2 linked regions of the Homo sapiens genome follow. The protein of the gene in region 1 purifies or fractionates together with the protein of each later gene. This does not show direct contact. Each region holds a gene or a part of one and is shown on either strand. Other genes may lie near its edges.

The links.
Region 2: the proteins of CFAP161 (region 1) and EML5 purify together in Homo sapiens (affinity purification with mass spectrometry, with the first as the bait; one large-scale study listed by BioGRID). This does not show direct contact.

Annotation. Positions count from the first base shown.
Region 1 is NC_000015.10:81,132,973-81,137,069, reverse strand, and holds the start of CFAP161 (cilia- and flagella-associated protein 161), read right to left. Parts: upstream 2,801-4,097; 5' UTR 2,741-2,800; coding exon 2,672-2,740; intron 1,801-2,671; coding exon 1,711-1,800; intron 555-1,710; coding exon 322-554; intron 1-321. UniProt on the Homo sapiens protein: Microtubule inner protein (MIP) part of the dynein-decorated doublet microtubules (DMTs) in cilia axoneme, which is required for motile cilia beating.
Region 2 is NC_000014.9:88,790,154-88,794,422, forward strand, and holds the start of EML5 (echinoderm microtubule-associated protein-like 5), read right to left. Parts: upstream 2,801-4,269; 5' UTR 2,351-2,800; coding exon 2,154-2,350; intron 2,125-2,153; exon of another isoform or gene 1,583-2,124; coding exon of another isoform or gene 1,557-1,582; intron 1-1,556. UniProt on the Homo sapiens protein: May modify the assembly dynamics of microtubules, such that microtubules are slightly longer, but more dynamic.

The DNA.
Region 1 (4,097 bases):
TCAAATGAGCTCAAAAAGTTCCAAAATGTTATAGGGAAAACCTACTTTGCTTCCAGGCAGAATATGGATTTAATTCCCTGGATCCTATACTCATGATTTAAGCATTTTGAATTGAACACAATTATCCTGCTGTCTAAGGTAAAAAGGGATTGTAAAGTTCCTTTGACAATAATTCTCAAGGTAAGCAAAGCAAGATGAAAATCACGAAAAATGTTCACAAAACCTTTCCCTCCACTCAGTGGCTCCAATACCCAGGAATCTTTAAGCTACAAGTGAAACATATTTATGATGAAAATGAACTGAAAATTAAAGTCTCTTTACCTCAAAATGATAAAAGTGTTTCTGCCAATTGGGGTCTTGGCTTGAACTGCGCTCAGGCCACAGGGTACCTCTAATTCGTCTTTCAGATGGGACTGAATTTCATCTGGAGTCATACACAGGCTCAGGTCCCCACGCAGAAACACATCAGCTTCTGTGTCAGGATCATCAGGATTCACAAGCATCACTTTGTCACCGTAATGAATATAGCCATCTTCAGTTACGGAAAGTTGCATCTACAATTTTGATAGTAGTTTATTACATAAACCATGCAATTCCTCAACAGTTACTGCCAAGGCAATTTTCTTCCTTCTCGGACTAGTACCCATTTCATTCAGGATTTCACTTGGATTCCCTCGAACCCTTAGTTCCTTCTTCCTTTCCCTTCCCCTTTGCCAAGGCAAAGCTCCCAATAATTCCAAATGAAGTCGAATAAAGCTGGTTAAAATCACATGGATTTACTCATTATCCTAGAAATTCAACATTCATTGAAAAATTTGTCGATTACCAACTAAGGGGCATTTTACTTATTTACATATTAACTCATTTATTTCTTTATTTGTAAAATGCAGGTAAACATGATTTAGGGCAGACTGTTTATGTTTCTAAAATCTTAGAAGAATTTAAAACATTGCAAATTGTTTTTAAAAACTGTTATTTTCCAAATGGTAACTCAGTTATGAAATTTTTTTCTTGCTTAACATATACTCACACCAAGTTCAACAGAATTTTGAAAACAATGTCTGAATTTAAAGTTACCGGTCTCAATAAACATACGTGTGCATGTGTCTTTATAGCAGCATGTTTTATAATCCTTTGGGTATATACCCAGTAATGGGATGTCTGGGTCAAATGGTATTTCTAGTTCTAGATCCCTGAGGAATTGCCACACTGACTTCCACAATGGTTGAACTAGTTTACAGTCCCACCAACTGCGGCACTATTCACAATAGCAAAGACTTGGAACCAACCTAAATGTCCAACAACGATAGACTGGATTAAGAAAATGTGGCACATATACACCATGGAATACTATGCAGCCATAAAAAATGATGAGTTCATGTCCTTTGTAGGGACATGGATGAAGCTGGAAACCATCATTCTGAGCAAACTATCGCAGGGACAGAAAACCAAACACCGCATATTCTCACTCATAGGTGGGAATTGAACAATGGAGAACACATGGACACAGGAAGGGGAACATCGCACACTGGGGCCTGTTGTGGGGTGGGGGGAGGGGAGAGGGATAGCATTAGGAGATATACCTAATGTTAAATGACGAGTTAATGGGTGCAGCACACCAACATAGCATATGTATACATATGTAACAAACCTGCACGTTGTGCACATGTACCCTAAAACTTAAAGTGTAATAAAAAAAAAAAAAGTTACCGGTCTCAAGAGATTCTGTTTTAGTCTTCTACTTCTCTGTATGAGAAGTTTCCCCTTGTCTCTCTTCTCTAAGAAGTCTTTCATGAGCTCCTAAACAGAAAATCAACAAAAGTAGCCCTGAATAATATAGATGTTAGTATTAATAACTTTTAGGTCAGAAGCTCTTCCAAGTTGAAAAAGCAAAATTTGAGTACAAAAAAAGAGATGTGAGCATAATTGGAATGATGGAACGTTTTTAGCACTACTTTAATATTTTTACTACATTATAGAATGTTTAGAAAAATGAGAAAGGCAAAACAAAGAAAAAGAAACATCACCAGTAATTACTCCAGCCAGATACCATCCTAAATGACATTTGGAGGCCATGTCTCCCCTGCTGGGGTTTCCCTTGACCGTATGATGACTGACACTAGAAAGTTCACCCCTCCCCAATCTGACCCGTATACGAATGGCTCAAAGCCTTGTTAAGACCACCCTTGGGAGAATACGAGGCAGTGAGTGAGTACAACGTCAATAAAAGGAATACTCAGGGTCATTTAAGAGGGCAAGCGTGGCAGGGTTGGAGTGGGGAGGGATATTATTTCTACCTAGAACCTGTGTCCTCACCTGGCCCGCAGCCTGAGACTGTAAGACTCTAAGGAATACGGGGGACTTAGTGGGGCTCTAGACTAAGCGGGAGACACAGGCCAGGGGCTTGAGAGTCAAGGCATCTGACTTTGGGAGGCCAAGGGACCCAGAGAAAGAAAAGTCAGGGTGCTCGGAGTAGAGGTCAGTGAGACCTGGGTTTGCAGTTCGGCAGGTGAGATTCCTTGGGAGTTTAGAGAAGTGGGGGATTTTAGAGGTATTCGCTGTATGCTGGGAGAGAGAGGAGGCTTGAGGCGCTCAAAGTAGGAGACTGAACTTAGAGCAGGGTCTGGGAGTTCCTGAGCTGCGGGTCTGCGCCTGGCCACACCCTGCGTACCTCCTCCAGGTAGACATCCTCATTCCAGTTGCCTATCCGGACTCCCGGACCATACACGTTCTGCGCCATCGCTCCCTGCTGTTCAGCAAGTGGGCCTCCCTCCGACACCATGCGTTAGCGTGGCGCGTCGCCATGACGACCCGGCCCCAGGCGATTGGTCAAGGTCTGGGACCCTGCTGGCCAATAAGCGACAGCGCGCACCCTCGCCCTGGGGCGGGAGATGGGGCGTCTGGGTCAGCGGCTGTCTGTGGCCCTCCAGCCCGCCCCACTTCCACCTCTTAGATTTCCTTAACTGCAGGGTGGGCGAGAGGGAAAACCCTGGCTGACAAAGTGCTTCCGAGAGAGAAATTTAAAGCTTTCTTTCTATTAGAATCTAACCGAAAAGTGCTATCGAGTACCCCTTGCTTGTCGAGGCAACAAAGAGGAGCTTTTAAATGGAAGCACGGCTTGCTTGCAGCCTATTTTTTGTAATCAGCAGCAGCAGCAGCAGCAGCAGCAGCAGCAATTTCGCCCTAATCATAAAACAATACCTGCTCAATGTACACATTTGGAAACCAAAATCGCATAGAAAGAAGAAAGGAAAATTAATAATTTCAGGGCCTTAAAAGTAAGAAATATACCATGTTAGTATATTTCTGTTTATAGGTTTCTGAGGTTGTCCATATTTTTGCGGACTTGACAGCATCCTCCCTCCCTCCCTCCCTTGCTCCCTCCTTCCCTGGGTCTCAAAGTTAAAGGACGAACCTGTGATTTGCAGGAACTCTTAAGAAAACCAGACTCTGCTGTAGCCAGCATTAATAAAACAAAATATTATTTTCTGGGGAGGGGAGGGATACCAGTTACTGTAGGACTACCGGAGGCTTGATGCAGATTGAATGCATTCAGTAATTTACCTCTATTTAGTGTCTAGTAAGACATGACTGAAATGGAAGACAGGAGCCTCCGCTCCCTTCAGCAAACCCAGTCTAAAAGAAAAGATAGTTCATGAAAACGAATTACTTAAGGAAGACTGTGGAAAAATGCAATTAAAGATGTGCTGATGGGCTGGCGTGGTGGCTCAAGCCTATAATCCAGCACTTTGGGAAGCCGAGGCAGGAGGATCACTTGAGCCCAGGAGTTCTAGACCAGCCTGGGCAACATAGTGAGACCCCATCTCCAATTTAAAAAAAAATACATATATATATATATATATATATATATATATATATATATATATATATATGCTGATGAAGGGCCATGGAGTTGAAGGATCCTTTCTGTCTTGAGGAACTGTGAGAATGGGAATTGGATGGCCTTTGAGTGATGGGAGAGGGGCTGCTTTGGAGCTGAACTGGGAAGGATTTGAACTGGCAGGCTGAAGTGTAGAATAAAAATAGGAACATTCCCACATTCTGATGAATCCACCAGCTCTGTCAATATATCACCA
Region 2 (4,269 bases), on another chromosome or scaffold:
TGTCCAGAGCCCTTTCACTGATTCCTAAATTATATTCTCAGTATCATATTAAATTTGTGCCACCAATTTCAAGATGCTGTATGATTCAGATTTTACTCCCTCATTGAAACTTTTCAGGAAACTTATTTTCATTGTTATACATTAAAGATGTGTCATTTGGATAAAATCATAAGCATGTATATTCAACGATGAGAAATTCGAGTATGTTTGTTGTTTTGTATAAGTTGTGCAACTATACCAAAAGAAAGTCAAAGCATTACCTTCCTTACAGTTTACTGAAACACAATTATGAAATTTAAGCGGTGTGACATATAACACAGCTTCTAATTACTGCTAGAAGAACAAGATGTAATTTACCTCACCAAATAAATCATATCTAGTTTCAGAAGACCTTAGTGCTATACTGCTCTCATAACCCCCAAGGAGTAAAAACAATACAAGTGTACCACGAGAAGACCTCAAAATCCTTCACATTTACTCCACCAGCTGAATTCAACCTAACAGACTAAATTATCTGGAGCAGGGCTTCAGTTAAGGCTGCTCCAGCTAGGTAAAGCTACTATGCCTGGTACTTTGGGAGACCTAGCATATGGAAAAGAAGGGAGACTTGAAAGGATTAGGGAAAAAGACAAGACACTGGGGTAAACTCTACTCTTGGGATAACTAAGAAGATAAATAATTACTACGGGTTTACTTTAGTTTTGTTTTTCCATCAGCAATTTGGGCTATTATAATAGGTCTGTAACCCTAATCACCACGATACAGAGTCCCAGCTTGAGAAAAATGAAATGACTTATCAGTTACCTTTTCAAAGTAATACATTAAATACAATCTGAAAAAGCACTCTGGTGTCCAAAAAACAAAAACAAACAAAAAAAACCAACTGAATACAGAGCACCACCTCATTCCTTACTCTGCAATCTCAATTTTGTCTTTTCTTATCTTTACTCCATCTTGCCCTACCTCTGTTTGTCCTAGGCATCCTTTCCCTCTTACATATTATAGATGTACAGAGACGCAAAACAGAAGAACAACTTTATTTGTGGAATTTACATACCAGGGCTTCTTGCCTACAAGACTTCAAACCAAGGTACCGTATTTGAAATGCCCAATTTAAATCCTGTGCAACATACATGAGGGAATAACATTTTGTAACCAAACCCAAATCGTAGAATCTTTGATAAAACCCCAAGAGCACCACACAAACACATTCTCAATTGCTTTTAATATATTTTCCTCTGTAAAGGACAAAAAATGCTGTGCTTGAGGCAATAATCAGTGGCCTAGAATGATTTCTGAAGCTCTTGACTTTACCATAAAAGTTGTACTAAGACACTGATTGAAAATTACATTTCAAATATACCGCTCACTAAAGAAATGTCAACAAGCTCTGGGACCAACTTTGAGTTATTGTCCAAGGAAGACTAAAAATAGCCCCCCAATAGCGATTTAATTTTAAGAAAATACAAAAGTAGCTTATTTAGGAGTATTTTAATGAAGATGAAGAGAACTGGAAATCAGTGAAGTTTTCAGCAGCCTCTTCAGATAAGACCTACCTTAAATTGCCTTCAGGTGTGCACATTTTAACATCCAGTGAATTGCCTGGAGGTTGCCTGGGGTTTCTGCTGATTATAGCAGGCGGTGAAACCTGAACTAATAATTACGGCCAGGAGGTGAGAGCCCTTCAGGACGCCACCCTGGGCGCGCTCCCCGGGAGCAGCCCACCGCTTGCTGTGCTTCCATCAGTCCTTTATTAGGTAAAGGGTTTCCCCCCACCCCGGGTGCTTTAAGAATGCGTTTAATAAGAAATTTCTCACAGGATCTAACGGAATAAAGTGCCACCAAAATAACCTTTTCGCAGTTTTCGTAATTGTGATGGAGTGGGAAAGGGGACAAAGCCGTCAAACCGGGTGCCCGGTGGATCCGCGGACCTGATCTTCCTGCACGGACCCGAGAGAGAGTCCCTAGACGAGGAAGAGGGGAAAGGCATTTGTAGGGTGTTAACTGGTGGACTCGGGACCAGAGAGACAGCTGCGGATTCCCCTCGGGGTGATGCTCCGTGCAGGAGCGGTCACGGCGTCCAGAGGAACCCGCGGGTGCAAACTCCGGGAGCGGCTTGCAGGGTGACGGCGGCGGCCCCCGCTCCCCGGTACCTGATGATGTCGTCGCTGTGGCCCCGGTAGAACTTCTGCCTGTGCTCCCGCGGGCTGTACACCACGCCGACCCCCGCCACGAAGTATACGATCTCCTTGGCCGCAGTGTAGTAGAGGTTGTTGCGGCACTGGTGGCCCCGGTAGCCGTACACCCACTCGAGCCGCAGGTGGCAGCTCGGGGCGCTCCGGGCCGCCATGTCGGGGCGCCCACCCGCCGCTCCCGCTCGGGCCCGCGGCGGCGACGGGAGGCGGCGGCGGCCCGGCAACGAAAGCCCTCCCGCTGGCTGCCGGGACTTCCCGCCAGCCGCGTCCTCTAAGCCGCGCCCGTCAGGTGCATCTCGTTTCGGGGGCCGCCGCCGCCTCAGCCCACAGGCGGGAGGAAAACCCTCGCCTCGCGGAACATGCTGAGGGCCGCGAGCGCCGCCGGCTGTCAAGTGGATGCCCAGAGCCCTTCGCCCGCCTCGGCTCGCCTAGTCTCCTCAGCCCGTAGCGCCTGGGCCGAGAGCGAGGGCCCGCCTCCAGCTCCTCAGCCGCCGCCCGCGCACGCAGCTCCCAGCCCCGGTCACCTGCGGCGCTCGCGCCCCGCCGCGGCTTTGTAGCCACAGCCTGGCGGACCCGCGCCGCGCACCCCGAAACCGAGCGAGCCGAGCCGAGCCGAGCCGAGCGGCGGGCGCGCGGCCTTGCGTGGCCCCGCCCCCTCCCGCGCTCACTCCGCCCCTCCCGGAGCCGAGAAGAGGCTGGAGTTCGCGGGGCCACGGTCTAGTTGCGGAGTCGCTGGGACCGCGTCTCTGCAAGTGCGCGGGCCGGTGAGCCCTCCCTCGTTGAGCTGCTTAAGCCCAGGCGGACCCTCGGCGACCCCGGGCTCCCGCTGCTTTGCGTCCTCAACCGGGAAGCACCTGCCGGTTCCGCACGGTCCCTGCACCCAGCGTAGGCCACGTTTTTGCCTGGGAAAATCCACACCGGGATGCTAAATTCTCTTTTTTACGCTTGATACCTTGTGTGTCTTGCTGCCTTATAGTGCTTTCGGACCCAGACATTGGAATGATGCCGAGCTTCCTAAATGTGCTTTTAAATTATTATTTTTAGAAACAGAGCCTCGCTCTGTCGCCCAGGCTGGAGTGGAGTGGCGCAGTCTCAGCTCACTGTAGCCTCCAACTCCTGGGCTCCAGCGATCCTCCCGCCTCAGTCTCCGGAGTAGTAAGGAGTACAGTTGCGTACCACTATGCCCGGCAAATGTTTTGCTTTGTTTTTAAGTTTATTTTGTAGAGGCGGGGGTCTTGCTGTGTTGCCCAGGCTGGTCTCCACCTCCTGACCTTCAGCAGTTCTTCTGCCTCAGGCCTCCCAAAGCGCTGGGATTACAGGCCCAATCCACTGCTCCTGGTCCTAAGTGTATGTTTTCTTAAGTGACCGCAAAGCTGAAGGTAGACTTTAGATGGTAAACTGACATGTGAGATCTGATTTCCGAATAGCAAAAAAAAAAAAAATTGTACTTCGATTTTTTTAAAAATGACTGGGACATCACCAACAGTTACTCTTAATTAAATAAATTCAATTGTGATCCTGTAGAAAACTCCTGTAATAAAAGTATTGGGAACAATCAATTCCTGACTATGTCATTTCCCCTCCTACTCAGTTGTGTCCTCTTCTCACAGGAATATGAACAAGATTTATCAATACCTCTAAAAATAATTGGAAATCCACAATTTAAAAAGTGTTAAGTTCAGGATGGCCACAAGATTTACAACAAAAAAATACTAATTCAGGATATACCAATATGAACCCTTATTGTCTAAAAATTACTGTTTGATTTCCATAGGAAATACCAAGACAGAAATCTGACAAAAGCTAAAATAAACTACCATCGTTTCAAGAAATATGACTCCAAAAGGGGTTGACTCCTGTGTGGTACAGATATATTGGAATAGATGTTATCCAATGTCTACTTCCTCAAAGATGCCAGTTACTAACTTGAGACAGGATTACCGTTTCGTCTTTGATTATGACTTCTAATCTGCAAGCAGTTTACATGCAGGAAATAAAGGCCATCTGAAAGGAATTTACATAGATGTCATGAAAAGTAAACTCTGAAAGAGTTTCCATTCTGGGCAGAATCTGA